Regions from separate parts of the Homo sapiens genome. Here regions 1, 2, 3, 4 and 5 are each reported to be linked to region 6. Evidence: microRNA targets listed by miRTarBase, many of them from high-throughput screens and not tested one by one. Region 6 holds a microRNA gene; each other region holds the end of a gene's coding sequence.
Evidence for each region. The annotated mature microRNA hsa-miR-1976 reads CCUCCUGCCCUCCUUGCUGU and lies in region 6 at 3,830-3,849, shown strand. An mRNA with a match to its seed (bases 2 to 7 or 8) in the 3' UTR can be bound and repressed. Matches are read on the target gene's strand: a 7mer-m8 pairs with bases 2 to 8, a 7mer-A1 pairs with bases 2 to 7 and ends in A, and an 8mer does both.

Region 1 (5,429 bases), not on the chromosome of region 6:
CTAAAAGCAATGGAATAAACAAGGCAGAAGTTTTGCAAACATGGAAAGGGGAGTGTTTGGAAAGGATGCAATGGTACAGCAGCTCCTAGTTTTATATATATGTAATGTATGTATCTTACACATATATCCATATACATAGAAAGCAAAGGAAGAGGGTTACACAGCATGACATGATGTTGACAAGTGTGAGATTCTTCCTCCTGAATCCCCTGACTTATCAGTCTGTACTTTAAGATAATGTGACAACAGTTTCAAAAGAGAGGAAAAAAGAAAGAAAAAAGGCACTTAACAAAGACAAAGGCCTGAATTGAGCATGTTTTAGAGGAGTAATATAAGCATTTTACCAGAGCTAAGAAATGATTTACAAAGAGTTAAACTTTTCCCCTTAAAATTTTATAAAATAAAATTGCATAACATGTTGTGATCATTTATCTACTACTGCACTTTTCTTCTGCTTCATTATTACAAACACAAAAGCCCCCTCAAAAGCAAAAAACAACAATCATACATGCACAATAGAAAGTAAAAGTGCCTCTTTTGAGAACATTAGGTCAGCAGAATTACAGTGCTGAAGCACAGGAAAGTTCTCAAGTTTGGCCTGATTATAGATTTTTCTCATTCTTCTATTTCCAACTTTAAAAAAAAACAAAAACAGAAACAAAACAAAAAACAAACAAAAAAAAAGCAAACAAATTCCAAACCTAAATAATAAAAACAACAAAGGGACCAGTGTGCTTTTACGGTACACTCCTAAAATAAAGTATCCTAATTCTATACATGAGTCAAACTAGAGGACAAAACATCCTAGAAATAAAGAACTGTAAATTAAAGTCAACCAATACAGGCAAAGTTCATTTTACAAATGTAGCAGCAAATATGATAGATCACTGGAGTTCTAAGAGATGATCCCAAAGGACGCAGAGTTCTCATAACCAATGGCAGTTTGAACAACAGCAGAATTTTCGTTTCAGAAAATGTCTTGAACCAAGTATAGGTGGAAAGGGGTGTGGGAGAGGGCAACCAGAGGACAAAGACTAGATTAGAGGTGCCTGCCCTTTCCAACCCTGGGTAGTAAACAATTTAGATCTGCTTTGGGAAAAAAATATCCTGGGTTAAAAATCATGTCCAATAAGTTGTTTTCAACCAGGTGTCAAACCCACAGTATTCCAACACATATGTGCCCGGTTCTTCCCCTTACCTTCCTGATTCAATAAACCCTATTCAATGTCCATGATATGAAAAATGTAATTTGGGCTAACAACATCCATCAGAGGGGGGGTGGGCACAAAAGAATGCACTATCACCATCTTCTAATTTCCGCAAAGTATCAGAATTTTATGACTACAGATTAGCCTCATTTCCTTTCCCAAAACCTTTTTCTTCAGGCTGTTTTAAAATCACGATTTCATTTACCCTCTGACCTCAAAAGCATACAAGAATTATAATTGAATTATAATGGAAATTATTGCTTGCATTTATTCTGGATGCTCTGAATGAGCTTGACACTTTGCTCCCAGTCTCCAACTGAGGCTCAGCACAGCTATCTCCGAGGACAACCCTGCTGACTGTTATTGCTTGTGAATACTGAGGATTAACTTGTATGTACAGTAACAGCTTATATATCAGTGAAGGCAATTTAAAATATAAAACAGTTGAAAACAAACAGCTTAATCTTCCTGAATCAAGAATCCCAAGGAGTGGGATATAATCATGTGTGCTGATTATTTTTGCATTTGGATGTTGCTAATGCTCTTCAGAAATACACGTTGCTCTATAGATATCCTTTCCAATGACTCACCATTTTAAAAAATAACATAATTTGATTTTTAAGTGCAAAAATACAGTATGAGTCACAAGTCTCTGTGCTAAAAAATAACCAATTTATATGTTTGTTTTTAGTAATAAAAACGGTAAAGACAGGTGACCATAAAGTATGGGCACCTTTTTCAATGTTATGATCTAGGAAAGAAATAGATTACTATTTACATGTAGAAACTCTCTGATCATACTTTATCTATACAGAAATACAACGATGTTTGACTGATTCATACAACATAAAAGGGGGGTCCTGACTGAAATGAATGTAAGTCGTCAGTGCAGGTGGGGGTTTAAGGTAGGGATCTGACAGTAGTCCTCAAGGAATCAAGACTAAAGAGAACACAGAAGAATCTCCACATTGTATTCTTGGAGCCAAGGGCCTTCAGATATTTTTACTGGTTAGTATAAAATGTTACAGGGAAAAGAACTGATTATCTTGTTCTTTTCTAATGATGACAGTCACCAGGGATCTTCATATGGCATGATTCAGAATTGATGGTTTTAAGAAATTCAAATGATTTTTTGACTCAAACTAGTCATTTATATGAATGTATGTGTGTATGTATATATACATACAGACAAACATATATACAAGTATTCAGGAAGAGAAATTAATACGCACTTCGACTTCTCTTGTGGTATGAGAAGTAAAACAAAGGCTACCTTCCCAAAGGAAAATCCCATCACTTCCCCTAGTATGAAGCAAAGACCTTTTTATTCATATTTCGTAAAAGCAAGAGGTCCACTACATTTGAAAAAATTAAAAAAATTGGGCAAGCTTCCTTAATTGAAACCAAGCAAATCTTCATCAAACATACTGAATTCAAGTCAAACCTCTCTGCAACATCCTCCCAGTATCCTTCCAAAATATCTACTGGGGTTCATACTACATCCATATTTGTTTTATTGATAAACTAAATTCTTAGAGTCAAGAAATTATATCAGTGATTCCTTTGAAATAATCCTTTCCCTTTACTGTAACAAGTTCTTGGAACTAAAGTTTTCAGTTATTTATTAACTTTTTCGCTATGAAGCAAGCCAATGTGACTTTGAAGTCAAAATATAGGCATACAGATCTGAACCGATCTGTGGTTATTTATTCACAGTCCTGTAGGGTATCTGGGACTTTTGTGTATAAAAGAAAAAAGGGCCTGGTTAATACTCTTAATTGAGTAAATCTAATGGTATAGGGTAATGTATAATAAACACATATGCAATAAATCTTGTCACTACCAGTCTATTTTTTTTAGGTTAGTGTCATTATAAATGGATGAAGCTTATACCATTTAGAGTTTACACCATTCTCTGATATAGTATGAAAATATTCAGAAGCTTAAAAAACTAGAATAATGCGGCAAAAAAACCCATCAAATCAAATGTATCCAAGGAGAACCATAAATTTTTCCCTTAACATCCTTTGTTGAATATGCTATTTGCATAAGGAAGCTATAATAACTAAGGAGTCTTATTTTCTGCAGATTTACTCACATACCAATACACTGAGTAAATAGTGAAGCTTTAGGATCTCAAATGCTCCAAACAATTTCACTACACTGGATACAGGGAGTAAAAATATGTCGTGATTGTGATCCTAATGTGATTCCTCCCTTTAAAATACCATCTTAAAAATTCAAAAACTATATTCATGCCATTTGAATGACCAATGAAGAAACATAGTGTACACTTCTACCTGTTTATACCAATAGCTAATAATCACCTGAAGGACCACTAGCTAAAAGAACAGAAGGAGAAGTTGTGAAGTTAGATGAACTGGGGAAACTTAGAGTTTATGTTGCTGCAAGGGCTAAAAGCAGCAAAGCAATAACCCTGTAAAGATCCCCATTTCTCAGGAGAAAAATGTGAACACAGTCACATTTTAACATCAAGAATGGAAATAAGAATTAACCAGTCAATACTAGATGCACAAATCACCTGAAGAAAAGAGTTAAGTACCTGCTTCTGAACGGAAGATGAAATTGACCCTTTTACAAAAAGGGGACATCTAGGTTTCATCTCTTAAGAGCAACAGGCTCAACTTCCTGATTTTTAAAAATCTAGATGATTTAATAATATATATCACTGTGCTAAAATAACTTTCCTGAAGGATCTTTAGTCCACTGATTGAGGGAAGTTGCTACACACTGGAGGAGATTCAAGTTTGTTCAGGATTTTCGAGGGTGTGCTATGCAGCTACTGTCTATCGGAGATAGAATCATTATTATTTCTTTTTGTGGCAAATCTGCTACACAGTCCATTCAAATAGACATGATCATTATTCCTGACAAACTGGCCTAATTCCAGTTTTTAATGCCTTTTATTACCAATTATGTCTGTAAGTGTTCAGATCCAACCCCCAGGATGGATGGAGTTTACCCAAATTCTCTTCACTTCCTTCTTCCTCCCCCGGGAAAAATCAAATTTGTATTTCTGTGGGTTTGACAACTGAGTCTCTTTCAAGTCTGTTAATACGGTAACTCTGTCATTCTTTAGAAGAGACCAAAGGTCACTAACTTTGCACAAAAGCATTTCTTCCTCCTGCACCTGGCTTTGCTCAAGTAATGTTTTCTTTTCTTTTTCCTCCTCACCACAGTGCTTGGGACGAGAGAATGTAAACATCGACAGAAACAGCAGCCCTATGACCACATAAGTACTTTCCCATCAGGTAGATTCCATCAGTCAACTAAACATTTCGTCTCCTTTGCTTGCTGGGCAGTCACTGAGATTTCCGTGGTAATTTAGTGTCCCCTTTACTTTGGCCTCCATCTGAGAAAAAGAGACGTTAAATTGGTATGGGTCCATATGTTACAAAAACCAGCTAACAAAAACAAAGCAAAAACAACAATTAACTTTTATCTTTTGTGGATGACATCTCTGAAAAGATATCACTTTTAATATCTTGCATGCCATATAGCATTATAGAGGTTGATAAAACATCATGGAGATAAAAACTCAACAACAATGATCCTCTTCTCTCAAATGACTGTGGTTTTCAGTGTTTTTTAAATATGATTTCAACAAGTATTTATCATTTACGTCCCAGCCAATTGTGTCAAATGCTGTGAGAGGGTTATAAAGGAACCAGAAGACACAATTCCTACCTCCGAGGGACCCACTACATCTTTCAACTCCTTTGGAAGACAGGTCAATTTCATTTTTTTTTTTTTGTAAGTGAAATAAAATTTCTTGCCAGGACACAGCATTTCATAATTCCTGATTATTTGTGTAAACAAACGTAGCAAACTTTTCATCTGTAGTGAAAAACATCCAGCTGAGTGTGTGCTCATTCTAACCTAGCTTTAAGTGACAGGAAAGTCTGCTACTGGGACAAGGCTCTTTCCTTTTTTTTTTTTTTTTTTGAGACGGAGTCTCGCTCTGTCGCCCAGGCTGGAGTGCAATGGCGCGATCTCAGCTCACTGCAACCTCTGCCTCCCAGGTTCAAGCAATTCTCCTGTCTCAGCCTCCCGAGTAGCTGGGATTACAGGCGCACACCACCATGCCCGGCTAATTTTTGTATTTTTAGTAGAGACAGGGTTTCACCATGTTGGTCAGGGTGGTCTCAAACTCCTGACCTCATGATCCACCCTGCCTCAACCTCCCAAAGTGCTGGGATT
Region 2 (5,392 bases), not on the chromosome of region 6:
CAAATGCCCATCAATGATAGACTGGATAAAGCAAATGTGGCACATAGACACCATGGAATACTATGCAGCCATTAAAAAGGATGAGTTCATGTCCTTTGCAGGGACATGGATGAAACTGGAAACCATCATTCTCAGCAAACTAACACAGGAACAGAAAACCAAACACCACATGTTCTCACTAATAAATGGGAGTTGAACAATGAGAACACATGGACACAGAGAGGGGAACATCACACACCGGGGACTGTCGGGGAGTGGGGGGCTAGGGGAGGGATAGCATTAAGAGAAACACCTAATGTAGATGACGGGTTGATCGGTGCAGCAAACCACCATGGCATGTGTACACCTATGTAACAAACCTGAACATTCTGCACATGTATCCCAGAACTTAAAGTATAATTAAAAAAAAAAAAAAAAAAGAAAGAAAGAAAGAAAAAGAAAAGAAAAGAAAATTTAGATCAGAGAGTGTGTTCTGGGCTTGTGAGTCCTGGGCTTTACTAAGAACATAAAAAGAACCACTGTATTTTACAGTATAATCAACTGTTTAAATTGCCTCAGACTTGGGTTCTGATCTGAAATGGAAAAGGCTGTCTGTTTTTCTTTATAATAAAATAGAGAATATGACTTGTGAATCCCATTCTTCAGGACAAACTTTAGTTGCTATTGGTAGATATAAAGTAAGAATCAGCATTCCAGGTACGTTTTACAAGACTTTTTCCAGCCAGACTCTCTTTGCCTTGGGAACAATTACAACCTTGACTTCTACGATGGATACAGAGTAGCAAAGCAGAGACAGTCACTGGAACAAAGGAGTCACAGTGAATATTGGTTTTTGTCTTTCCAAAAACAGATTTTTGAAATAAACACTAACTTGAGAGATTTTATGTGTACCAGTTCATCTGTAACATAAGTTACTTTAAAGCACGTCCAAACAGTGTTTTCAGAGATTATGAAAATTTTATTAATAAAGAAAATCTGCATTACACATATCCCCTTTAAAAACAACCACCTCAAACATGTAGAAATGCTTTATTTTGTATTTGCTATTTGATCAATGCCAGAAAAATGAATCCACAACACCAAAGTACAGACCAGTATTTTTGAAGGGGATAATAATCATTTGAGATAATAAACTACTAGAAAATCAGAAGAAATGATTCAAGGTATTCATTTCAAAGGCTAAACCACTAATTCTTCATCCAAATGAATGTTTCCACTGTGAGTCAATACATTTGCCATCAGTTCTTTTTAATGCTATCCTGAATACACAATATACACCTAAAAACATGATAGAGTGCTCTGAGAATAGCAAGAACTGATAGCCAACATGATTTACAGAAATTTATGGCTATGTAGCAACGGTTCAGAGACAATCTCTAGAAAATATGAAGGTACTCTTCATGATAGGAAAGGATTGGTTTTGCAGGGCAGCTTTTAAGTTCATTTCTGATTGTCTTTAAATAACCACTCTACCTTTGTCCCTTGATCTCACCCCTTGCTAAAATTTTATAAACATATTCCAGACATACTGCATGCAAAAAGGGAAGTATAAGAATATTAAGATTCTCATGCCCTGGACATGAATAGAAAACATGTACATAATGTGTTCTCACTGTCAGAACAACCTATAGAAGTGTAAAGCTGGAAACCCCTCAGTAGAGAGATATACACTTTTAATCCAAAGAAAAAAAACAGTGAGGCCTGTTACTTGACTACAGTTTCCAGGGCTCTGGTGTAGCTATATTTTAGGCATAGCTCCAAGGAGCAGCCTACACAAATTTGGATGGAGCGAGGGAGGCACAGATGGTGGTCACGTGAAGGCACAGACCGATCGAGTGGGCTCGGCTACAAAGTCTGTACATTTAGGCTGGTGTATTCCTCCTGTTTCAAGTACTGCCAAGTCCCGGCTCTTCCCCGTCTTTCCAAAGTCTTGATTCATTTAATTCTCCTGAAGGAGGTGGAAGAGGAGGAGGGTTGCACAAATCTTACTCTTTCGTGGTTTAGAGGAGACAGTCACCATCTTGGCGCCTTGTCAGATTTTAAATGTAACATTCTGCTAAGTGTAAAGCTGTGTATCTGTTCCTTTTCTGTTGCCATTATTGTAACTTCAATATTTGCAAAACACAACATCAAAATACTTCAAATCCAGCCCAAAGCGGTTATTCATGCAACACAATTCTTACACTTATCAATATACAGCGAGCTCATAGCAAAGGGATCTTTTCTTTCTTTCTTTTCTGTTTAGTTCTTTCTATTTGTTTATGATTTTTTTTCCTTGGGGACTTAAGAATGATTTAATCATACAATAGTAATATCCCCATTTTATATATGTATAGTATATATGTGTGTGTGTGTGTGTATGTGTATATATATATATATATATCTCCTGACGGTTATACTATTATAAAGCTTATTACAATGTCAACTCTTACAAGTTGCATTATTTAGAAAAAGGAAGCACAGAAGCTAAAATGATTCTACCATTTGAAATACCCTGTGAATTACTGGTAAAGCATAGAGCACCTTAAGGATATACAGAGTCTTAATTTTTAAATATAAAAACTTGTAGTGTTCACTATAAAATGTTGTTGTTAAAGAAATTCGGGATGTGCTTTCAGTGGTGCCTAATTCACGGTTACTAGCATTAACTGCTACTTTCTTACTCTTTAAAGGATGGACTACAACATTCCAGATTCTCAGTTATTTTCTTCTTTGTGTAGGAAACTCAACCAAAAATCAAAATGGATTCAGTTACTGGCTTTTTTTTTTTTTTTTTTTTTAATAGGGCACAAGGTATTTTACAGGTCCTCATCATTCTGCTTGGTATTCTGTTGGTGTAACTTTTGTGTGTGATAAATTCTGCTCCAGAGACTTATCCTCTAAGCTCTCCAATGTGTCTTTTTAGCTGGAGCTAATGTGTAGGAAGGCCATTTTTAAAGCAAATCAAAACATTAAAAGGTTTAACATCTGTTAATCGGGTGTTTTATCTAGAGGACATAAAAGATATTTACAATCCTCTAGCTTACCGACTTAACGCTTTCCTTTATACTGGATATTTATATTGTGTAGAAATTGAAACCATTATCACAATCAGTGGAATTATTCCACTTTCTTCTAAGACAAGCAGGAAAATGTTTTCCTTTTAGGTTAGAATTTCATGATTAGTAAAGTGTATCAATAGGCAATGCGGAGAGGCGAATTGAACTCAATTATTATCTTAATTTCTGCTTTCAACAAAGCATACTGATAAAGTTCTTGATACCATTTATGTTTCATGAATTTCCATTTTTAGCTCCTTCCTTAAAATATGGATACAGTTCAGAATTTAATAGCAACAATAATCACAGAGAGAAGTCTCCCCACCTTGGGGCATTTGTGCTTTAAACCACAGTCACTTAAAAACAAAACAACTAAAACTACCCTCCAAGTCAAGGCCATATTGCTCAAATAAGAACTTCAAAACATTATTTTGATTTCCTAGGTTGACTAAGCATACGAATTAATAATAGGATTATGTATCAAATACAGTTTCATGAATGGAACACATCAGCATTACCCAATCTTCCTCAAACATAGATTGGTTGCCAAGAGAGATGCTTTTCAACATATCACAAATGTGCTGTTTGTATAAACACTTCCTATTACAAATGCTCTTGTTTTTGTTTAAATGGGTGTTTTTAACCTGAGCTATTAATAATTTTTTTTTTCCTTGTGGTGCTTGGCTTTCAGAAGAAAGAATCTTCAGGCCTCTGCTCTTGTGAGAGTAATTTCTCTTAACACCGACAGTGCAGCGTAAGTACAGTCAGAGCTCATTAAATAGACTTCTGAGCATAATTATAATTAACAATTAGCTAGAAATTAGTTTTAATGATTTGTTTTAGATGATAGAATAGAAGCATAATGTAATTATTTTTAAACCTTCTACATCATTTAGAATACAACTACCACCACCTTTCAATTATTGAGAGGCAATCATCTAAAGCATTTGGCAAGTGATCCACTTACGGAGCCAAGCTAAGGGAGCTGAAGAGAAGAGGCCGCCGCCCCAACCCAGGTGTTGTTAGTTATCTAGCCTTTTGCAAAGCCTCTTCCGTTTCTACTCTGCTCTTTAAGCTATTTCATGCCTTGAAGATGTCTCTACCAGGGAAAATAAAGAGATTCAGCTCTTCCCCCACCTCCTGCCTGTCTCCAAGACAGAGTGGGGCTGATGACTGGAGGTGGGAAGGACTAGAGGAAGATGCCACAAAATTTAGCAACTGGGCCTGAAATTCACCATTCACACCATCAAACTGGACTAACAGGAAAGAAGATTATGTAAGGAATGGATAAAATGAGTTAACAGGAATTAACTCCAGACTGTAAAGATAGATCTATGCCATTCTTTCCTTGTTCAGTGTTCTGTTAACTTTTAATATCCCAAAATCAATTTGGATCTTGCTTTCTCTGCAAGAATGTTAAAAAAAATACAATAGAAACCTGAAGAAATGCTCTTTTGTTTCATAAAAATATAAAAATATTCAATTAGAAGAGTGACTTTTATTGTCAATTTTTTTCCTTTCTTTGTTTAAAATTTTTTTTTGTTTGTTTAACCTCAGCTACTCCATGTGCTACTTTCTCTCGCAACTTTGAGCAAGAATGTTAGATCTTTTGCTGGGGGCCTTCGGAAGCCGTGAGGGAGCATATCCTGACACCCACATAGAAGACCTGGTACCTATGTTTCCACATCACAAAGCAGGCCAACAAGCACACAAGGCCGCAGACCAAATTAAGAATCATCTGGATGAGTAAGAACAGTTTGAAAGTGCCAGTGACGCTGGTACAGTCCGTCACATCCCGGTAAACAAAGGTCCTGCTGAGCGGCTCCGAGGAGGGCAGTTTGCACTGGCAAGAGTCGAGTGTGGTCTCACAGGTAAACTGTGTGAGCTGCGAATAGTGGTGGGCGGCAAAGGCCACGGCCAGCACACAGACCGTCAGGCCCAGGGCACTCAGCAGAAAGTATAACAGCTGCAAGAAAGCAGAAGAAAACCTTTCTGGTTACAAAGAACATTGGATGATGATTTGCAAAGCGAATTCATCAAAACTGTTCTTTTTCTTCCCTCCCAGAAATTTTCTGATGGAAAGGCTGTCTCTTCTTAGAAACACAACACCCAAGACATGGAAATAGCTCCATGTTTATTTATTAGTGGGTAGTTCTTAAACCCTGATCACATTTTCACTTGCCATCCAGATGTTGGGCCCTTTTCAAGAGTTGTGACAACCATATTAGCTGGACTGTGGAATGTTTTTGTCTAGATATTGCCAGCAGTTTAGATGAATCCCAAACAAGCTAGCCATCCCTGGATGACATGTTGTGCTTATTTTGAACTCAAGAACTTCTGATATTAAGACTGAA
Region 3 (5,429 bases), not on the chromosome of region 6:
TCTTGACAATATGTATAATAAAGATGCTCTGCACAATATAGGTAACGATACATATGTTATACAGACGTAATTCAGAATTCTCTAATACACGTACCTGGATGTGGTCCTCCTGATCATTTTAGCAAACGTGTTTATCTTAAGTCAACAGTGATATCTTGGCAACTTTGCTTTAGCATTTCAATCTCTCTCTCTCTCTCTTTTTTTTTTTTGTTTTTGAGACGGAGTCTCACTCTGTCACCCAGGCTGGAGTGCAGTGGTGCAATCTTGGCTCACTTCAACCTCCGCCTCCCGGTTCAAGCAATTCTCCTGCCTCAGCTTCCCGAGTAGCTGGGAATACAGGTGCATGCCACCACACTCGGGTAATTTTTGTATTTTTCATCGAGATGGGGTTTTGTCATGTTGGCCAGGCTGGCCTCAGGTGATCTGCCCACCTCAGCCTCCCAAAGTGCTGGTATTACAGGCGTGAGCACCACACTGGCCAAGCATTTCTCTTATCAGACATTCACTTTATGATCAAGCTTAACTTTTTCTCAGTTGAAAGTTACTTAATTCCAGCCCCATATGGATGTGTATACAAATTATACTCAAACTTTGATTAGAATGCAAAGATTTTATATCCATGTATCCTTTTGACAACTTGTTTTCAACAATGGCAAATAAATAAAAGAATGCAGAAGATTTCACAGTCTGCGGAAGGCTGTGACTTAAAGGGAAAATTGTTCTAATTTATTGTTCGCTTTCAGACAATGGAAGAATACATGAACAAGCCTACATTTTAACTGGAAATCTACTTGAAGACTCCAGCACTACATGTTATGAAGCTGTAAATAAGCAACGCCTCCCATCCGGTTTTTTGATGGAGCCTCAGGCACCATGCCAAAAATAATTTAAAGGGATTCTTTGTTAACTAACAAAGTTAAAGTTGTTTAACATATTTATAATTACTATGTGTCTGTATTATTAAAAAAAATTATGTGTCTGTGTTATACTGTATAGGTACTTGTAGCTCTAAATGTTTAAAGTAACTACCACCTAACCCAACAGACAATATTTGTAATGTATTAACTCCATGTTATGTTTTTAAGCTGGTTTAGATACATTAGCTGCAATTTTTTTTGCATTTGACACAATATTGTAATAATCCATGATTTTGAATGTAAAGTATATATGATGTCATTAATACTTTTTCTAAATGTTTAGTTTTCTAAATTGTATAATAATTCAAAATTATGTTAATAGTGCAGAGTTTATATGTAATGCTAGACATTTTTCATACACTTAATAGTACTGTAACTGCAATTCACATACAAAATGTCTGATTTTAATGTGCTGAATTCATTTATTTTTTTTAGAATTGGGATTATGAAAATAACCAAAGAGTATAGAACTTAATAAGTGTTTTTGATGCCTTAGAAGCTGCTATCTTGACTGAGGTTTTAATTTATCTTTTAATTGAATATAAGGGACATTCCAATAAGGTTTTCTATGAACTATATATTTATTAAGGTTTATAGAGACCTAGAGATACAGCATCTATGACTTCCTTTATTATTCTAAAATAGTATGATAAGAATTAATAGCAATAATAATTATTGCTACTATTTTTTAAAATTCACGTTCCAAGCACTCTTAGATGCTGGAAATTTCATTTCAAATATGTTTTAATGTATCTCTAATGCATTTGAAGACTTATTACATGGCTTACTTAGAGCATTTAAGATTATCACAGCCTATATGGTAGATTCCTTTCCTTCTTTTTTCTTTTCTTACCCTTTCCTCCCCAAAGAAAAGATTTGCTGCTGACCATTATTACTGTAAGTATATCACATTTGTGCTTCCTGGAATGAAAATTCTGTATAACCAGGTCCTAACAGTGATCAGACATATTACAGGGAAATAGCTTGTAGGCCGGGAGTGGTGGCTTACACCTGTAATCCCAGCACTTTGGGAGGCCGAGGCAGGTGGATCACTTGAGGTCAGGAGTTCGAGAGCAGCCTGGCCAATATGATGAAACCCCATCTCTACTAAAAATACAAAAATTAGGCCGGGTACAGTGGCTCATGCCTATAATTCCAGCACTTTGGGAGGCAGAGGTGGGCGGATCACAAGGTCAAGAGATCAAGACCATCCTCGCCAACAAGGTGAAACCCCACCTCTATTAAAAATACAAAAATTAGCCGGGAGTGGTGGTGCGTGCCTGTAGTCCCAGCTACTTGGGAGGCTGAGGCAGGAGAATCGCTTGAACCTGGGAGGCAGAAGTTGCAGTGAGCTGAGATTGTGCCACTGCACTCCAGCCTGGGCGACAGAGCGAGACTTCGTCTCAAACAAACAAAAAAATTAGCCGGGCATGGTGGCAGGTGCCTGTAATCCCAGCTACTCAGGGGGCTGAGGCAGGGGAATGGCTTGAACCCAGGAGGCAGAGGTTGCAGTGAGCCAAGGTCATACCAGTGCACTCCAGGCGGGTGACAGAGCAAGACTGCGTCTCAAGAAAAAAAAAAAAAAAAAGAAAAAGTAAAAGCTTGTAGTATTCTGTCTTGCTGCCTGCTATTTGATGTTTTACCTGTGCATTTTCAATGTTAGCTTTGAGGTCTGGTATCATTCATATTAGAGTGGTTTGGGACCTCCAGTGATTTCCTAGAAGAGTGTGTTTCCTGTTGGATTCTTTAGGAGATCCCATCTGGTAGATTTTTAGAGAACTCGATGGAAAAATGTTCTCTTTAGTTCATCTCAGCAGACATATTTAGGGAAAACAGCAAAGCAAGCAGGAGAACAAAGGGAAAAATTCACCAATTCCTCAATATAACCATTGTTCAAAGGAAATAACTCAGATTAGCATATAAAATAATCATTAGGCTTTTACTATCCAATATTTCTTCAGGTTACCATGTAATTACAATTATGGCATCAGCTTGAAGTTTATCATGTATGATTGACCACTGTGTTTACTTTAGCTAACCTTCAGTTTTGTGGTTTAACTTTTTAATGTGTTAGAATTTTTTCTTTCTTTTTTTCTTTCTTTCTTTCTTTTCTTTCTTTCTTTCTTTTCCTTCCTTTCTTCCTTCCTTCTTCTCTCTCTCTCCTTCCCTCCCTTCCTTCCTTCCCTTCCTCCCTCCCTCCTTTCTTTCTTTCTTTTTCTCTTTTCTTTTCTTTTCTTTCTTTTCTTTCCTCGCTTCTTGTCACCCAGGCCAGAGTGCAATGGTGTGATCTCAGGTCACTGCAGCCTCCGTCTCCTGGGTTCAAACGATTCTCCTGCCTCAGCCTCCCGAGTAGCTGGGATTATAGGCATGCGCCACCACGCCTGGCTAATTTTGTATTTTTGGTAGAGTTGGGATTTCTCCATGTTGGTCAGGCTGGTCTTGAACGCCGACCTCAGGTGATCCGCCCGCCTTGGCCTTCCAAAGTGCTGGAATTACAGGCATGAGCCGCTGCACCCGGCCAAATTCTTTATTTTTCAATACAATTTTGTAAAGATGGACCTCATGTAAATCCATCATAGTTTTTCCGGTTCTTTTGAAATTTGTCACCATATTTGGATAAAGGTATCTCTTGAACCTCATTCAAATATACTACACATGTTCTGGATAATTCCATATTAGACACTTTAGTTATGGACAGGGCTTCTCAGACTTCAATCAGTGTCACACATAGAAAGTAAATATATCTCTTCTGGGCAAGGTGGCTCACGCCTGTAATCCCAGCACTTTGGGAGGTCAAGGCGGCAGATCACCTGAGGTCAGGAGTTCGAGACCAGCCTGGCCAACATGGTGAAACCCTGTCTCTACTAAAAATTCAAAAATTAGCCAAGTGTGGTGGCACATGCTTGTAGTGCCAGCTACTCAGGAGGCTGAGGCAGGAGAATCGCTTGAACCCGGGAGGCAGAGGTTGCAGTGAGCTGAGATCACGCCACTGTACTCCAGCCCGGGTGACAGAGTGAGACCCTGTCTCAAAAAAAAAAAAAAAAAAATGAAAGTAAGTAAACATATCTATATGGCACAGTGGGGTAAATTTGAGGGATTTTAGGGACATCTTCCATGGGCCTAGGCTAAAATAGTCATTGTGTTTTCTTTATATTATATAATTACTATAAAACTACCAAGAGAAAGACAGTAAATGTTAAATTTCTATAAAACTTCCAAAATAAAATGTTTTAACATGTTTTAATGAGGAACTTGGTGTGTTTTCATGAATACACTTTTTTTTAAGTCAGATTTTATGTTTGAAATTGCTACTCATAATTCCTGGTGATGTCTCTTTAATATGACCTCTTTATTTTCTTGGTACCTACCAACAAGAAGCAACTTCAAAAGTAAGTGGTAGCAAATGGGAGAAGAGTATTTATTGCTTTTGCTCCTACTGACTTTTCTCATCATTCACCTACATTTTGGTAATCTGATCTCTTTACACGTAATTAATGATGTGATCATTTTTTAAATCTAGTGACAGCTCCTTTTCTTTCATTAACAAATGTAAAGTTGACAATTTTTGTGATAAAGCAAATGGATTTTTGATTCAAACTTTTTTTTCCATATCAAACCTCCTAAAATAATGATAAAGCTTTAGTCAAATGTATTGTTCTAATCTTTTTTGAGACAGAGTCTCACTCTGTTGCCCAGGCTGGAGTACAGTGGTGTGATCTCAGCTCACTGCAACCTCCACCTCTGGGTTCAAGTGATTGTTGTGTCTCAGTCTCACGAGTAGCTGGGATTACAGGTATGCGCCACGTGCCTGGCTAATTTTTGTGTTTTTGGTAGAGACGGGGTTTCACCATGTTGGCCAGACTGGTATTGAACTCCTGACCTCAAATGATCTGCCCACCTCGACCTCCCAAAATGCTGGGATTACAGGCGTGAGCCACTGCGCTCAGCCAGCGTCTTCTTTAGAATTCATGTTATAATACCTACGAAACATCATTGGTGAACTGTGTTTAATTTCACCTTTCTAAGTTATAATCAATACATTTTACTGGTAAATTTTACCTGATAATGTACTTATTCACAATGGTCCCTGAAAATTTTTGATTAAGTTCATTCAGATGCTGAGGAATATGAGCAAAGCAAGCCAATAAATATTCTCCAATAATTTGCAAAGGACAACCATTAATTTTTTTTTAATTCTTATTTTAACTCTTGACACAAGTTTACCAGTAGACCATGTACTTTGGTATTAAGCAGAAATCATCTATTTTGTCACATATTGCTAAAAACAGAAAGGTCTGTAACATCTAGGGCTGCCTTTTTTTTTTTGAGTCAAGGTCTGGCTCTGTTGACCAGGCTGGCGAGCACTGGCATGATCATGGCTCACTTCAACCTTGAACTCCTGGTCTTAAGGGATCCTCTCACCACAGCCTCCCAAATAGCTGAGACTACAGGAATGCACTGCCATGCCTGGCTAATTTTTAAACTTTTTTTAGAGAAGTGGGGGAAGAGGGG
Region 4 (5,363 bases), not on the chromosome of region 6:
CAACAGCGGCCTGAAGCCAGACCACATACAGCGCTTGACCTACAAGCTGTGCCACATCTATTACAACTGGCCAGTAAGTGCTTCTACTTGTTGATGTTTAGCAAATAAAGGACATTCACTTTTCAAAATGAAATAGCTGTGGTTTAAAAGGCTTTTAGGGTTAATACTGAGATTTGCAATTGAAAGAGGCTAAGTCTAGAGTAATAGAACCTTTTTTTCCTTCCACTAAAGGGTGTCATTCGTGTTCCTGCTCCTTGCCAGTACGCCCACAAGCTGGCTTTTCTTGTTGGCCAGAGTATTCACAGAGAGCCAAATCTGTCACTGTCAAACCGCCTTTACTACCTCTAACCTGCAGAAGACGATGCAGCCGCTTTTCTTTTTGAAATGACTTTGGGATTTTTTTAAGCTTTTATTTACTTTTTTTTTAACTGTTATCTTTCTGGATGAAACTTGGGAAGGGGATTAGGAGATCTAGCATTTTATTTCTAGCATTGCTATTCACCGGCTTCCTTATTTTATACGTAAAAATTAAGATTTTATATTTTATCTTCTTGTTTCTCATAGATATTTTGTGAGCATTTTTTTGTTTATTTTGAAGAAATGTGGATAAGATACTTGGTAGTATAAAACAGACTCTCTGAGAGTATTTGAAATGTGTTTGGAGATTTACTTAAACGTACTTTCAGGAGTGAGCAAGTCCTACTTATAAACCTATATTAACTTTATTTTTGAGATACCTGTTTTGAATTTAAAGGAGATAAGAGGCGTAAAGTAGGATGCTCACTACAACCATAGGTGGGGTTTCAGCTCATATCTTAAAGATAAAAGGTACTATTATATAACCTATACACAAGATACAGGAGAAAATATGCTTGATTTTTATTTGGCAGGGGGGCTAGGTTGTATGGGAGTAAAAAAAACATTGAAAATTTTTAAATTGTCCAAAGAAACATTTTAAGACTCTTTAACAAAAAAGGCCATGAGTAAATCTCTATATTAACATTACTATTTATTTTGTTTTGGAACTGGGACATGATTCTATTTGTTATAAAATAAAATTGATGTGATTGTCACCTTATTTGAATAACTGTAATTCTTGTTTTACTGAAAGTATGTGCGTTTTCTTTTCATTTAATTTTTAAAAGTGCATACAATTCCATTCATAAAAGCTAAATTAGCCTGACCAACATGGTGAAACCCCATCTCTACTAAAAATACAAAATTAGCCAGATGTGGTGCCAGGAGGCTGAGGCAGGAGAATCACTTGAACCTGAGAGGCGGAGGTTGCAGTGAGCAGAGATCACGCCACTGCACTCCAGCCTGGGCAACAGAGTGAGACTCCGTCTCAAAAAAAAAAAAAAAAAAAAAAAAAAAAAAAAAAAAAAAAAAGCTCAATTAGTGTCTCTTACGAACTCTAATGTCAGAGTAAAATTTTTTAAGGAAATGCTGCCACCTCCAATATTTGTAGTATAAGAACGGGTATCCACAGCTTATAAGGAAGCACAGACTAAGAAGTCTGTGGTGTTGTGAAGTTGGTAATTGTAGTTTTTTATATCTACATATTTATAGGAATTCTCAGGAACGTTTGCAAAGAGAAGGCTTAAAATTAATGAATTATTGTAAATCCCGGGAACACCTTTAAACATTGCTTACAAATGTGATGAGTGTAAGCTTTAATGACAATACACAAGTCCCTGGAACTGTAATTTAAACTAACGCAGATCACTCAAGTCATTTGTCTTACCTTTGTGGCACACGGTCTCATTCTGAATTTAGCCTCATTAACATATTATGAATGAAAACCATTTTATTTTCCTTTTAGTTCTTAGAGCTAATAATTGTTGTTAACATTGTTCTGGGCAAGCAGCCCAGGTTCCTTAACCTGTTCGATTTCTAAGCATGAGAAGACAAGAAACACAGAACAGTGTGACCTTCAAAAGGAGGCCAGAGACAAACATTTCAATGGTAGAAGTTGCTTAAGGTTGTCCTAGCATTAAGGAATATAAGGAAGTCTAATCATACGACTGGAAAATATTAATTTATTTATGGATTTTGGTGGCTAGTCAGTTAGTTAAGTCATGAAAAGCTCATTCTTAGCAGGTCTCAGCTCTGCCTCAAAGTGAAAGTTGAATTTAATGTCTTTAGAACCGTGAAAAATTGGTAAATGTGATAATTGTGGAAAAGTTGCAGGTGTCCAGAGACCCCACTATATCAAGAAAGACTTAGTTGAAAGGGACAGAAAACTGGCTGAAGTTATTTTAAGCCAAAAAAGGGTATTGCTTGGTTTTGTCATCATCCTAGGTAACACTTCCCAAATTTACTAATCTGTTAGACATCACCTGGTTGGGTTTGTGATAACACAGACTGGGTTCCAAACTGTACCTAGGAATCGGGACTCTCAGGGGAGAGGCCAGGTGAACAGTCTATTAAACAAGTCCCAGGTGATTTGCCAGGGACTTTTGGCAAATGCTAGTTGAAAGGGGTCTCCTTAACATCGTCTTGGTTATGCCTCTGCTGTGGTTTTCATCAGACAAACCTGTTGCATGCGGCGACAGAGACTAGGTTGATGTCTGAGCCACACCGAGTACACGGAGCACTGTCAGAGAATTCACTGCCGCACTCACAAAGAACAAAGCAAAGACTCCGTGAAATCCCAATTTCTCCTTTCACGTGGGATGTGCGTATCTGAGTGGGATGTCCAAAAGCTTTAGTGTTAAACACACTGACCTCAGGCTGTCCCTTCCCAAAGCTTCGTCTGACCAGTCTACCTGGTGGTTCCTGAAGGAACCCCAGGGATTTGGTGGGTGGTTCCCCAAAAGTGCATGCCTGTAGGAAGTCTGTCCACTCTTTTCTGGGTACATTTTCCTTCAAAATTCAAAAATGTGACACTCATTGAAGCATTCTATTTAGCAATTTTACACGCATTCCCTAAGTCCTACAGGAGTTTTTTGGAGTAATCTCCTGAACCTGCTGCTTACACACAGTGACGGCTCTGGCTCTCTCCTCAGAGTCAAATAGAAAGTATTTTCAACAGCAGTTTCATTCTGATACTATGATACGAGTCTTCAGATATTTCGTACATTTCTAAGTAAAAGCTTAAAGTTTGTGTAATTGGTATTGTCATTCAGATACAAGATTTCAAAAGCTAGGTTTAATTTTCTTTACCTTCATTATTACTACCCAATGATTTTAAAAATCCATTGTGTACAATAGAGAAACTGTAAAATTTTCAAGAGTAGTCAGGAGGGAGTCCCTGCACTTGGAGTAAGATGACTCTTCTCTCTAGGCCACCATTCAAAGGAGGCTCCATGGCCTCTACACTCTGAGTTAAGCTGCCCTTCAAGCACCCTGTGCTGCCAGAACTCAAGTGGGCACCTAGAACTCTGCACTGCGGAGTCCAGCGCTCTGCCCTCGTCCATCGCAGCCTTCCCACTCTCATGCCTGGGAACCCCACGACCAGTGGCATGCCCCATCCCTGGGCTCTTCCCACAAGCCCAAAGCTCCAGGTGATCCCTCGTATTTCAGGCTCATCTCTGAGGAGCTCTTTGCAGTCTCTTTTTTGACACCATCCCCTGCTCCTCAACTTTTCCTGTGTCCTCTGGAGCTCATTCTCAACAGCCTCTTAGGGGCGGTTTCTTTACATCTCCCTTTAACAAACTCGGCTTTCTCCCGGGTCACTCACAGTGCTGCTGTTGTCTCTCCTACACTTCTCGTCTGCCAAGGTCTGGAGGGTGAGGTAGGTGTCCCTCTTGCTCCTCACTGATATTTCCAGACACCCCGACCCCCGCAAAAAAGAAACCACTCGGCTTTGAATCTACTTTGATCAGATCATGTCAGCCGCTCCCCCTCCCTTTGCCACTTTATGCTCCCCGAGCTCCGATTCCTCCTTGCAGATGGTAGCTCCTGGCTTGCTCACATTGTCCTGTGGTGCTTTCCTTCTAATTCTTGGCTAAAACACACCGGTGAAGTCCAGCTTTTTGCCTACTTGCCTGTTCCTTTGCAAATAAACACGGCTGGAGAAAAGCACGCAACCCTGTGTAATTGTTGTATTTCAATTCATGATCACAAGCAGGTATTTAATGCTGTCAATACATGTATGTCTAGCCATTGGCTCCACAGCTCTCTGATGTTTTTCATACCTTGTCTCCTTACACCACCACCACCACCACCTCCATCCGCATTCTCAACTACTGTCTATTTTGCTAAAAATCCAGGCAGAGCTTCACAAGCTCCCACCTGAACCGCGTTTGCTCTGCAGCCCGGTGTTGTGGCGGCACGCACGGTCTGTGCACTCGGCCAGAGCACACCCCACCTGCTTGGGCACAAGACATTCATTTTTGGAGGATGTTGTTTTGGAATCTCGTCTCTCCTTGTTTCCCTGCTTTAGTATTTTTCTTTTCCTATTCATTCCCAACAGCTTGCAAAACTGGTGTCATTTTTTTTTTATGTTAAAAAATAAAAGCCTTTTGGGCCCCATTGACCCTTAACTACTGTTCCATTTCTCTCTTTCCCTCAAAACTCCTGTGTTGTCTGGACTTCTTTCCTCCCCATCCTCTCTTGAATCCAGTGCCAGCTGTTCAATTCCTGGCCATCCTCCAGCCAGACCTGCTGCACGCCTGGCATGGTGTCCCCTTTCTCCTGGAAACATGCTCTGCCTGGCTTCCACGATGCCATGCTCTCTTGGCTCCCCACACCTGACTGTTCCTTCTCAGTCTCTTGCTGGTTCTTGTCTCTAAGGCCTAAATGTGCCTTCAGACTCTGCCAGGATCCCCTTTCTTTCTGCTCTTCCTCTGTTGGTGATTTCACCCATGACTCATTTGTATGAAGATGCTTCCCAGACCACATCTCCAGGCCCAGTTTCCTCCCTGAACTCCACACTCACATCATCAGCTGTCTCCTAGACGTCTCCCTTAGGCTGTCCAACACAATGCTGCTCAGACTTCTTGGTCTCGGAACTGCCTGACACTCTTCAATTACTGAGGACACAGAGATTTTGTTTATGTGAATTATATCTGTTGATAATTACCATATTAAAAATTAAAACATCTAAAAATATGCGTGCCCATATTCCATTGTCAGAATGATACTGTCAGCACATGACGTGTAGCCTCTGGAAAACACTGTATATGCCTGAGGGCGCGTTAGAGTGCAAAGGAAAAGTGACCTCTCAGTATCATACAGATAATTTTGATTTCGCAGAACTCCAAAGGAGTCTGAGATTTCCAGGGGCCTCCAGACCGCATTTGACAACCTCTGGTTGAACTGGTGTTTCAGTATGCTCAAAGTTAAACTGTGATTTCTTGAAGCCCTGTTCCAGCTCCGTAAATCAGGACTTCATCCTTCCAAATGTTCATTCAGGCCAG
Region 5 (5,429 bases), not on the chromosome of region 6:
AAACTAAAGTGTTGGAAGAGAACAAGAATAGAATGTTAGTTAATGAATAAATGCTTCTTGCTGTTTATTTTTAAAAGCTATTGAGATAAACCTATATTTTATTATTTTAATGGAAATAGTAAGGTTTTTGTGGTGTGTGAGTTCTTTTTCCCACGACAATTTGAGTCTGTGGCCCCTGGTAAAAAAATATCCCTGCTAGTTTGTTTTCAGTGGTAAAGCCTTGAGGCATTTTGAGAGCATCAGCACAATCCATGTGAGCTCCCAGTTGGAATTTTCATTCTTTTTAAGGAAAGTGGTCATCTCATGTATATTGACAAATACCCTTTAAAAATTCTTTGGCAGCTTAAGACTGGGTATGCAAGAGGACTTAGAGGAAATGAGACGTGAAGAAGAAGAAATGCAACGTCGAAGGGCCAAGAAGCTGAAGAGGCGTTAGCTGCTGCTTTTATTTTTGTGAAATTCTAGAGCTGCTCTGCTGCAAGGATTTCCTGCCTTCAGACTGAAGAAGCCCCCTTATCATTTTAGATTTATACTTGGGTACTCAAGGAGAAGGAATGCATACTGTCATTTGCAGGCTGTCATTTGAGCATAAAATATTTTCAGATATTTTCCAGGGTGAAATCTGTAATGCAGATGATATAATGCCCACTTGTGCTCTTATGAAGTTAACTGTTCACAGATGCCAGCCTTGATCCTGATGAGCTATGCACTCTAATGTGGGGCCACTCACCAGTCAGCCAATCTTTTATTGTTCCTTTGCTACTTTGAAAGGAAAAAAAAGGTTGTCTCTTGATTTCTGTAATTCTTCTGCTGATCTGTGAGTAGGGCACTGCCCTGCTCCCAATCAAACTTAGTCTTTTTATGAGAAACCTGGACCTTCCATGAATGTTGCCAGCAATAAAGTGACTTGTCCTAATCTATGGATTGAGAACTTGAAAATGTAGAGTAGAATTTATAACTATCATATGGATGTCATCCTGTGACTTTGAAGTACAAAGTAGAATAAATTCTGTATTCATGGATTGGATGCTGAGCATTCTTACTCATTAATTTAGGTGGCTAGGAATTAATGAAAAAATTTTCAAGTTAAAATACAGGTTATAACAGTATAATATTCTTTTCTAAGTTTTCCTTTCAGATTTACTGTTATGTTGGCTTTAGTGTAAGACAAGGTCACTGTGCTGATTGATTTTTATCTAAAAAAATTCATTTTTATATCGAAGAAAAAATATTTTATTCAAACATTAGATTTGAAAGAGTAATAGTTTATAAAATAAGGAAGTAACATGTGAGGCTCTCCCCTCCTCCCCTCCCCCATCATAAAGATATTTTGAAATCCCAAGGTGCCCTCATACCTCTTGACATTAATGACTTCATTTTTTAGCTTGAATTTGTTAGCAAATATTAATGGCAGAAAACCAAAAACTAAATTTATGGTATCGAGAGCACCACCTTCTCTTTTTGCCCATATTGCACTTTGATTTCAAACTATGCACTGTGAAGAGATTTTTTTCCCCAGGTAGGAAGGGATGTTCCCTGTTATCGTTATTTTACTGAGCTGTGGAAACTCATTTTTACCCTTTTTAAAGTCATAAATATGGACTTAATAGCCCTTAACCTTCAAGTCCAAGCAGTTCCAATCAGGCTGACTTAGGATCATGCTGGAAGGAAGCCAAGTCTCAAGAACTGTCAGCAACAGAAAATGAGATATGATGCTAGAGAGCATTTGTCCTTGACTGTAAGTACAGAGGCTTAGGGGAAGTGAGACATAAGCTTGTAGGAATAATAAACGTTCTACAATAAACGTTTTGGCTATCTTAAGCCATTGTATGGGGGGGATTAGGAAGTAGGAGGGATTGTCCTACAACAGGCCCTTATACTTCAACAGCCCAAATATTTTGGTTTATTCCTTTTTATCCATAAAGTCTTTATTCTTCAAGTTTGGGTATTATAGATTACCATTGTTAGCCTCCCTTAATGGGACCATATGAGCCAGGCTTTTAAGACGGACTCATTTTGAATTGAGTTTCAAACTTTGAAAGTGCAAGGATTTAATTTTTAAGTTGAATCCCATGAAAGGTGTCATCATCACTAGGAATAACACCCTTTGTAACTACATATAGAACTGTTACAATGGTAGCAGAAAATCCTATTGATTTCATCTCACCCATTTCAGATACCTTCAGTGAAATTAAGGGTAGTGTGATGTCCCATGTAATAAAACAGGCTTAGAACATCAATTCCTCTGCTGCCATTTATGTGCTTTTATTCCCCCTTCAAAAATTTTTTATTGGATATATATATTTTTCAGTATTCAGACTCTGAAATCTGTCATTACAATCAAGTGCTTGTCACAGCTGAAAGATTTCTGGTGGCTTAAAGTTTACTAGCAGTAAATTTATGATATGGTACAGTTCTTTGTACAGAAAGGCACCATTATGTTAGAATAAATTTCCAGAACTTAGTGGGAAGAATCAGGTTTTAACCTTGTGTGTCTGTTACTTCTGAGTGCATTTCTATAATATAAATGTTGATTTGCGTCAACATTATAAAAGAGCACTTCTGTGGCTCATTTAAAAGAAAAAAAAGGTTAAGTCTTTTAAATTTTGGCCTTGTTTCCAAATCCTGTCTTCCATGTTGTTTTTCTGCACTTCCTGACCACTCTTATAAAAAGCTCACAAACCTTTGAAGAAACTGGAGTAGGCTGTTATTTCATTAAGGTTTACAAATTAAATGCTTGATTTTTAATGTATTCTCTACTGTTTTGATTTTTGGATTTTCTTAATTCAACATTTGAAGATGTGCCTTTTGGGTAATGTTAATCACGAATGTAGTAATATTTCATGATTGTAATAATGTTACATGATCATGGGTGTGGCATTCTCTAACAAATGATGTGAAAGGAAAGTAGTTTTCATAAAACTCATGGCTCTGATTGCACAGTCCCACTTGCTTTTGATATTGCTATGTCAAAGCAAAGGGCACTTCTTTTAAGGCTACTTTCAGAACTTTGTATTTTCGCTAAACTATAAATGCAGTTGTGTCCAGTTGGAGGCCAGGGTACCACATGTCACAGGCGGCCTTACATGTGTGCCGTGAAAAGGTTCAAAGACCGTTAACAAAAAAGTAAGTCTGGCCGGGCATGGTGGCTCAAGCCTGTAATCCCAGCACTTTGGGAGGCCGAGGCGGGCGGATCACTTGAGACCAGGAGTTCGAGACCAGCCTGGCCAACATGGTGTGAGACCCCGTCTCTACTAAAAATAAAAAAATTAGCCGGGTGCGGTGGCACACACCTGTAATCCCAGCTACCGGGGAGGCTGAGGCAGGAGAATCGCTAGAACCTGGGAGGCGGAGGTTGCAGTCAGCCAAGATAGCACCACTGCACTCCAGGCTGGGTGACAGAGCGAGACTCCATGTCAAAAAAAAAAGAATGTGGGAACTCAAATTTTCATTTTTAATGTAATCCCCAAGATTTTCTCCAAGAAATAAATTGTTGTTTTGTATTTTGTAACTTAAAAGCAGCTATTGGTAAATTTCTGAGATATAGCAGGAGACCAAAACATGTTTGGAAAGAGAATAAATATATGAAGAGAGACTGGTTGTTTTATTTTCAATGTATTGAATATATTAGACTACTATTTATTTTCTGAGTGGATGTGATTAAATATTCAGACGTTTAGTGTATGATTAAGAGTGAGATAGAGATTTCTTTGGAGTAATTAAATCCATCCTGTCTTTTACACAATGGACAAATCAAGTTAAAAAAATTTTTAGATAGCTTAGCTTGTTTTCTGGTGCTGTTGACCTGCAAGAGAATATACTTTTGCATATACAGGTGAAAGTTTTGCAATTTATGTATACAAGAAATTGTAGGCATTAAAAATATTTTATTGATATTTTTGCTGGTTTGCATTTATTGATTAAAACTTTGAGATATTCTTTATCTCATCACCCTGAACATTTTTCCAGCTAGAAACCTCGGTATACTCATCACACTTCAGAGATATGGTTTGCCTATTGCACACACTCCTCTGCTTATTCTCCCTTACACATTCATGTCTGCTCTAACATGATAGAGCTTCTCTCCCCCTACCAGCTTAGAGAACTGTTCTGCTCTCTGACCCATGTTGGGAGAACTGTTAGGTGGTCAGAGCAATGGAATCTTTTAGTGGCTCAAGTTTTGGAAGTTTACTCAAATGGAGGGAGGACACAGCTGGGTATATGGTTCCTCTTGTCAAAATGAGCAGGGTCCTATCTCTTATGATAAAAGCAGCTTGAGATGGCTGAGAAGAGGAGTCCTTAGAAATGTATATGAGGCAGGCTGGGCACAGTGGCTCACACCTGTAATCCCAGCACTTTGGGAGGTAGAAGCAGGTGGATCACTTGAGGCTGGGAGTTCGAGACCAGCCTGGCCAACATGGCAAAACTCCGTCTCTACTAAAAATACAAAAATGTGGCGTGCGTTGTAATCCCTGCTACTCAGGGGGCTGAGGTATAAGAATCACTTAAACCTGGGAGGTGGAGGTTGCAGTGAGCCGAGATTGCACCACTGCACTCTATCCTGGGTGACAGAACGAGACTGTCTCAAAAAAAAATGTATTACGAGGCAAATGGGCAGAGCTATACAGCCAGAGGATGTAAGTACTTAACTCACTGGAAAATGTTGAGTCTAAATCACATAAGAAATAGAAGATGCTAGTATCCTAGAGTCAGAAATTACTAAAGTTTTGCTTATGGATTTTGAATTTATTTTCTTTCCATTAAAAAAAGGTAATCCATTAATTGCAAAGAGCCACTTACAAATAGTTAAGCAAACTTCCCAAATAACAAAATGTTTTCTATGTAAACAAAAGATCTGCTTTGCTGGAAAAGGTATACTTCTTTTGAATACTGGAACTGTATCAGTCATCCTCAGAATGGGTACAGTTCCATACAATTTGTTTTTAAAGTATTTACTCCTGTTAGGTCTCTCTCAGGCTCCCATCTTTTCAGTAGTCATGAAAAAGAATTATCAGGCAACTTCCTGGGTTTTCTTTTCTCTTTTTTTTTTTCTTTTTGAGACAAGGTCTTGCTTTGTCACCCAGGCTGGAGTGCAGTGGTGCAATCTCGGCTCACTGTAACCCCCACCTCCCGGGTTCAAGCAATTCTGCCTCAGCCTCCCAAGTAGCTAGGATTACTGGTGCCCACCACCACACCTGGCTAATTTTTGTATTTTTAGTAGATACGGGGTTTCACCATGTTGGCCAAGCGGGTCTCGAACTCCTGACCTCAAGTGATCCGCCTGCCTCGGCCTCCCAAAGTGCTGGGATTACAGGTGTGAGCCACCACGCCTGGCCTAACTTCTTGGGTTTTCAGGTGAGGGAGACATTTAAACAGCAAGATCTTGGATATCCCACAGTCTCTTGTTTGGCTCTTTTCCTTGGCACATG
Region 6 (5,353 bases):
ATCCAGAAGGCCCTAACCCAGCTTGGCAAATTAAGGAGCGCTTCCTGGAGAAGGTGAGGCCTAAGCTGAGTCAAAGAACCTGCTGAGAATCAGAACTGCCCAATAACTTGTATTATTTAAAAAAATAAATAAATAATATGAAGGGTGCCCACCCAGACCCATAGATCGGGATTTTAGGCCCAGGGATCCAGCTCACCAGGTAGCCGTTCTTACCAGCCCCGAGACCAGAATTTGGGAATTTTTATGCCAGATGGAAAGCAGAGCTGGTGAAGGCATGCCAGGGGGAGGTGCAGAGGCAAAGTCTGAGGATCTGACAAAGCAGAGAACCCTGGGGGAGCAGGTTGCTCAGACTGGCTGATTAACAGGTCTTGATGGGGTCTGGTGGGAAAAGGGACCAGAGAGATGGGCAGGGTGCCAAGGCCCCAGCTGTGGGCACTGCTGTGAGGGGTGGGGACAAGGAGCCAGCCAAGGAGCCAGAAACAGACTGGCAAGGAGGAAACCTGAGGATTGAGTGTCCCCAAAGCCCTGGGTGAGGGGGCTTTGGGAGCTCAGGCCTGGAGGAACAAGTGGAAAAGAGATCCCTTAGCGGGGGCTTGGGAGTGGCTGTGTTGAGTGTCTAGGCTACTGGTGACTTCCTTTCTCGTCTGGCCAGTACGTGACCGCGTCCGGACCAAGATGGAGAGAGACATCCTGGCTGATGTAAATCACCCATTCGTGGTGAAGCTGCACTATGGTAAAGCTTCTGGCCCTGCCTGAGCTCCTACCCCACCCATCCTTCGCCCTTGCCTGTGGTCTGTACACTGTCCCACCGCCTGCCTGGCAGGCCAAGGGAGCCAGGGCCGGAGAAGCAGATCATAAGGCCGCGCCGACTCTACCATTGCCTTTCTCCCTCTTCCCAGCCTTCCAGACCGAGGGCAAGCTCTATCTCATTCTGGACTTCCTGCGTGGTGGGGACCTCTTCACCCGGCTCTCAAAAGAGGTGAGCTGACATCTACTGCCAGAGGGCCCCGGGATGGAGCTGAGGGACGACAAGTCCTCCCATCCCAGGGCCCTGTACAGAATGTGTTTGGTATGGCTTGAACCTGGAACCACCCAGGCCTGCCTAGCAGCCCCTGGCCCAGGAAATACCACGCACCCTGGAATGGAGGCCATACGCTGGCAAGGTCTCTGAGAGTTTCTCCCAAGGAAACTCCAGGGAGCTAAGGGTTCCTCTCACCTCTGCACCTGCCTTCTTCCAGGGCTGCTCTGGGCAGAGGTGTGAAGATAGGGGAGAAGCCCAAAGTCACCCAGAGAGCCAGAGACTTTAGCAGTCATCTTGCGTATGTCATCCAAAAGGATTTTGAACCAATATAAAAGGATTTGAGGCTGGGCGCAGCGGCTCACGCCTGTTATCCCAGCACTTTGGGAGGCCGAGGTGGGCAGATCAGGAGGTCAGGAGATCAAGACCATCCTGCCCAACATGGTGAAACCCCGTCTCTACTAAAAATACAAAAATTAGCTGGGTATGGTGGAGTGTGCCTGTAATCCCAGCTACTCAGGAAGCGGAGGCACAAGAATCGCTTGAACCCAGGAGGCAGAGGTTGCAGTGAGCCAAGATCGCGCCACTGCACTCCAGCTTGGCAACAGAGCGAGACTCTGTCTCAAAAAAAAAAAAAAAAAAAAAAAGGATTTGAGCTAGAAAATGGGACCATTCGTACAATTCAAACTTTAAAGAGAATCTAGCTTTTTTTTTTTTTAATTGTAATTTTTTTTTTTTTTTCAGATGGAGTTTTGCTCTTGTCACCCAGGCTGGAGTGCACTGGTGGGGTCTCAGCTCACTGCAACCTCCGCCTCCCGGGTTCAAGCAATTCTCCTGCCTCAGCCTCCCGAGTAGCTGGGATGACAGGTGCACGCCACCACGCCTGGTTAATTTTTGTATTTTTGGTAGAGACAGGGTTTCTCCATGTTGGCCAGGCTGGTCTCGAACTCCTGACCTCGGGTGATCCGCCTGCCTCAGCCTCCCAAACTGCTGGCTGGGATTATAGGTGTGAGCCACCGTGCCCGGCTTAAATTGTGATTTTAATGTTTGAATAGGTAATATACATGATTCAAAAGAAAAATATTCATGAAGAAGTCTTCCTCCCACCCCAGCCCCCTCTATTCCCATCTATAGGTAAACATTTTTATTGGTTTCTTGTTTAACTTTCCCATGTTTCTTTTGCAAACAAATCCGATATATGTTCATTCCTACCCCCATTTCCTTATGTAAAAAGTACTATTCTGTATACACTGTTCTGTACCTTGCTTTTTTCAAGATAGTATATCTTGGAGCTCACTCCATGTCAGAACACGGAGAAACTCCTTGTTCCAGTTCATGGCTGCAAAGCACTCCATTATGCAGGGGAGAGGGCTGATTCCAGCCTTCTACTCTTGGACCCTAGGCCTGTTTCCCACCCCTTCTATTTCTGAATGGTGCCACAATGAGTGGCTTGCGTATTAGTCATTTCATACTTCAAATCCTTTGTATGATGAGAAGGCTATATGGCCTGGGGTTTCCAAGGGTCCTCCCAGGGTGGCTCTTCAGGACCAGGAAGCTGCTGACTGCCCAGTGCCCCAGCTCTTAAGGAAGAGGAGGTCCCTGCTGAAGGCCCCTCCTGTCTTTTGCAGGTGATGTTCACGGAGGAGGATGTGAAGTTTTACCTGGCTGAGCTGGCTCTGGGCCTGGATCACCTGCACAGCCTGGGTATCATTTACAGAGACCTCAAGCCTGAGAAGTGAGTGAAGCCTCCAGCCCCACCCCAGCCTCCCCAGGGGAGGCCTCTTCTAGGACAGGGCCATCCTGAGGTGGGTGGGCATGGCTTTCTCCAGAAACGTCTCCCTCTCTTGGGCAATCTGAGGGATGGGTGAGTGGGGTGGGTGGTAGTGCCAGCTGCCCAGTCACTAATGCTACCATTACCAAGGGCCAGGTACTTTGCATGCAGGTAATGTTGCCCGTCTTTTTTTGCTAATCTAGTGTGACATTTGAGATGCCACCTTTAGAGGTCTTTCCTTGATAAAGCCCTATAGAATTTTCCCTAATATCTAACTACCCTCAAATGATAACTAAGGAGCCAGGGGCAGGTGGTGAGTTGGAATAAGATCTGGCTTTAGTGTTAGGCAGCCCTGTATTCAAATCCTGTCTCCACCTACTAGCTAGACTTACTAGCTCAATGACTGTAGAGCTACTTAACTGCCCTGAGCCTTAGTTTTCCCATTAGCAAAACGGGGCCCTAATAGTACTTGCCTCACACAGTTGCTTCAAGGATTAGCAAAAAAGATAGGCAACACCCCTGCGTGGTACTGCTACCACCCTGCAACACCCGCCCAGTCATCAGAGAGAATTGGGTGGAGCACCTCCTCTGGGCTGAACCCAACTCCCACAGCCCTGTGGTAACACCATCACCCACACGGCCACAGCTGAGGGGCCCTGACCACTATTTCTCTATTACAGCATCCTTCTGGATGAGGAGGGCCACATCAAACTCACTGGTGAGTGGAGGGCGCCTGCCCCCTCGGGACCCAGGGGAGGACAGGACAAGGTCATGATAGGTCTCGGCTGAGTGCTGGGGGCTCATTCTTCCCGAGAAGCCGTGCCAGTTACTTGGAAGTGGTCAAAAACTCAGGCCTCAGACTTGGAACACCCTCAGCTGGAATCCCAGCCCCTCATTGTGTAACGTTGAGCAAGTCACCTGACCTCTCTGGGCCTTAGCTTCCTCCTGAGTGTCATGGGGGTGATGCCTTCTGGCCTCTGGGCACGGGGGTTGGGTGTGCAAAGGGTGGCAGCAAGGAAGGCAGGGGTCCTAAGGTGTGTCCTCCTGCCCTCCTTGCTGTAGACTTTGGCCTGAGCAAAGAGGCCATTGACCACGAGAAGAAGGCCTATTCTTTCTGCGGGACAGTGGAGTACATGGCCCCTGAGGTCGTCAACCGCCAGGGCCACTCCCATAGTGCGGACTGGTGGTCCTATGGGGTGTTGATGGTGAGTGCCCAGACAGGGGTAAAGGATCCAGCCCAAGCCTCTGGCCTCAGTCTCCCTATCTGTACAGTGAGGGGGTTGATCATTTCTAGGGCTCTCCCCGTCTCCTCTCACAGCCAAGCTGGCCTCACCCTATATGCACCTGCAGTTTTCTTCCTTGGAAGGATCCCAGGCTTGACCCCACCTGGGACGCGCCTAACCCAGTGCTGGCCTTCTCCCCAGCCTCGCGCCCCCACCGCTGCTCCTGGTGGTCTGGTTGGCAGAGGCAAGAGGGACGGGCATAATTCTTGCTCCAGGCTGACTTGGATGTATCAGCAAGAATCCTGGGACTGGGGCAGAGGGGTCTGACTGGGAGGAGGCGGGAGGTGTGTCGGAGACAGGGATCAGAGCCTGAATAGATCCTTGTCCTCTGCAGTTTGAGATGCTGACGGGCTCCCTGCCCTTCCAGGGGAAGGACCGGAAGGAGACCATGACACTGATTCTGAAGTAAGCCCCAGCCCTGCCCTGATAACAATGGACTCCTCCAAGCCCCAGCCCCAGTTTGGGGGTCAGAATATTATTACCCTGTCCCTGCCTCAGCTACCCTCTCTAATGAGACTCTCCTCTGGGTTAAACATTATACCTTCCAGAGCCCCTCTTTCATCCCTGGGGGCCTGTGGGTAGGATCCCTGAAGCCTTTGGGAAGTGAATTAGTGGATGGCTTGTCTAGACTGAGCTGGGAACTAGATCTGGACAGGGGCCGGGGGAGATGGGGCCTCTGGGGCAGGGCTCAGCCTTGATGAGTCCCGGGGGCTGTTTCAGGGCGAAGCTAGGCATGCCCCAGTTTCTGAGCACTGAAGCCCAGAGCCTCTTGCGGGCCCTGTTCAAGCGGAATCCTGCCAACCGGCTCGGTAAGCAGCCCCAGCTCAGGGGAGGGGATGTGGCGATGGGGAGCCGGGTACAGCTGCAGCCTAGGCCACAGGGCCACATCTGGGCTGAAAGGGGCCGTTGTCCTTTGTGTGGGCAGACAATGCCGCGGGCCACCCTGCTTTCTGGCTCCATGTGTGGTGTTGTGGAGGGGGGAGTTGACCTGTGTGTAGGGGGAAGGCAGGAACTGAGTCATCCCTACTCCCTCTGGGGACAAGGACAGAGGCCCCCACACAGCTTCTCCGCCAAGGCTGCTGGCACAAGAGAAATAGCATGAGCTCAGGAGTCAGAAGGCATAGGTCCCAATCCCGGCTCTGTGTCAGGTCCCCACTGCCTGGCACAAAACAGTCCCTCTATAAATATTTGTTAAACGAATGAGGCCACTTATGAACTAAGTGACCCCAGGCAGGTGACTTCACCTCTCTGCACCGCAGGTTCCTCGTCTCAATGGGAGAT

Region 1: the mRNA of UBN2 is a reported target of hsa-miR-1976. Seed matches in the 3' UTR shown: 7mer-m8 at 4,351-4,357.
Region 2: miRTarBase lists SSPN as a target of hsa-miR-1976. Seed matches in the 3' UTR shown: 7mer-m8 at 4,176-4,182, 7mer-A1 at 2,383-2,389 and 7mer-A1 at 1,945-1,951.
Region 3: miRTarBase lists AP1S3 as a target of hsa-miR-1976. Seed matches in the 3' UTR shown: 8mer at 2,227-2,234, 8mer at 2,762-2,769 and 8mer at 3,850-3,857.
Region 4: miRTarBase lists PIWIL1 as a target of hsa-miR-1976. Seed matches in the 3' UTR shown: 7mer-A1 at 858-864 and 8mer at 1,252-1,259.
Region 5: the mRNA of SPTY2D1 is a reported target of hsa-miR-1976. Seed matches in the 3' UTR shown: 8mer at 3,323-3,330 and 8mer at 3,547-3,554.

What each region holds. Positions count from the first base shown.
Region 1 is chr7:139,296,939-139,302,367 of GRCh38, reverse strand. It overlaps UBN2 (ubinuclein 2), which reads right to left. Exons shown (of 18, transcript NM_173569.4): 18 at 1-4,581. The coding sequence ends at 4,532. Among named protein-coding and RNA genes, the nearest start is that of TRR-CCT4-1, 41 kb to the left of the region's middle.
Region 2 is chr12:26,230,323-26,235,714 of GRCh38, reverse strand. SSPN (sarcospan) reads right to left here. Exons shown (of 3, transcript NM_005086.5): 3 at 938-5,004. The coding sequence ends at 4,639. The region is part of intron 1 of SSPN-AS1 (SSPN antisense RNA 1); the gene reads left to right. Among named protein-coding and RNA genes, the nearest start is that of SSPN, 37 kb to the right of the region's middle.
Region 3 is chr2:223,754,065-223,759,493 of GRCh38, reverse strand. AP1S3 (adaptor related protein complex 1 subunit sigma 3) reads left to right here. Exons shown (of 5, transcript NM_001039569.2): 5 at 744-4,168. The coding sequence ends at 779. Among named protein-coding and RNA genes, the nearest start is that of AP1S3, 81 kb to the left of the region's middle.
Region 4 is chr12:130,371,251-130,376,613 of GRCh38, forward strand. It overlaps PIWIL1 (piwi like RNA-mediated gene silencing 1), which reads left to right. Exons shown (of 21, transcript NM_004764.5): 20 at 1-73; 21 at 232-1,387. The coding sequence ends at 348. Among named protein-coding and RNA genes, the nearest start is that of PIWIL1, 36 kb to the left of the region's middle.
Region 5 is chr11:18,604,868-18,610,296 of GRCh38, reverse strand. SPTY2D1 (SPT2 chromatin protein domain containing 1) reads left to right here. Exons shown (of 6, transcript NM_194285.3): 6 at 343-3,894. The coding sequence ends at 436. It also overlaps a transcript of MISFA not described here. Among named protein-coding and RNA genes, the nearest start is that of MISFA, 7.8 kb to the right of the region's middle. RefSeq lists a silencer at 1,561-1,855.
Region 6 is chr1:26,550,745-26,556,097 of GRCh38, forward strand. MIR1976 (microRNA 1976) reads left to right here and starts at 3,798; the gene lies at 3,798-3,849. RPS6KA1 (ribosomal protein S6 kinase A1) reads left to right here. Exons shown (of 22, transcript NM_002953.4): 5 at 653-733; 6 at 900-979; 7 at 2,647-2,753; 8 at 3,470-3,507; 9 at 3,852-3,994; 10 at 4,407-4,477; 11 at 4,793-4,881.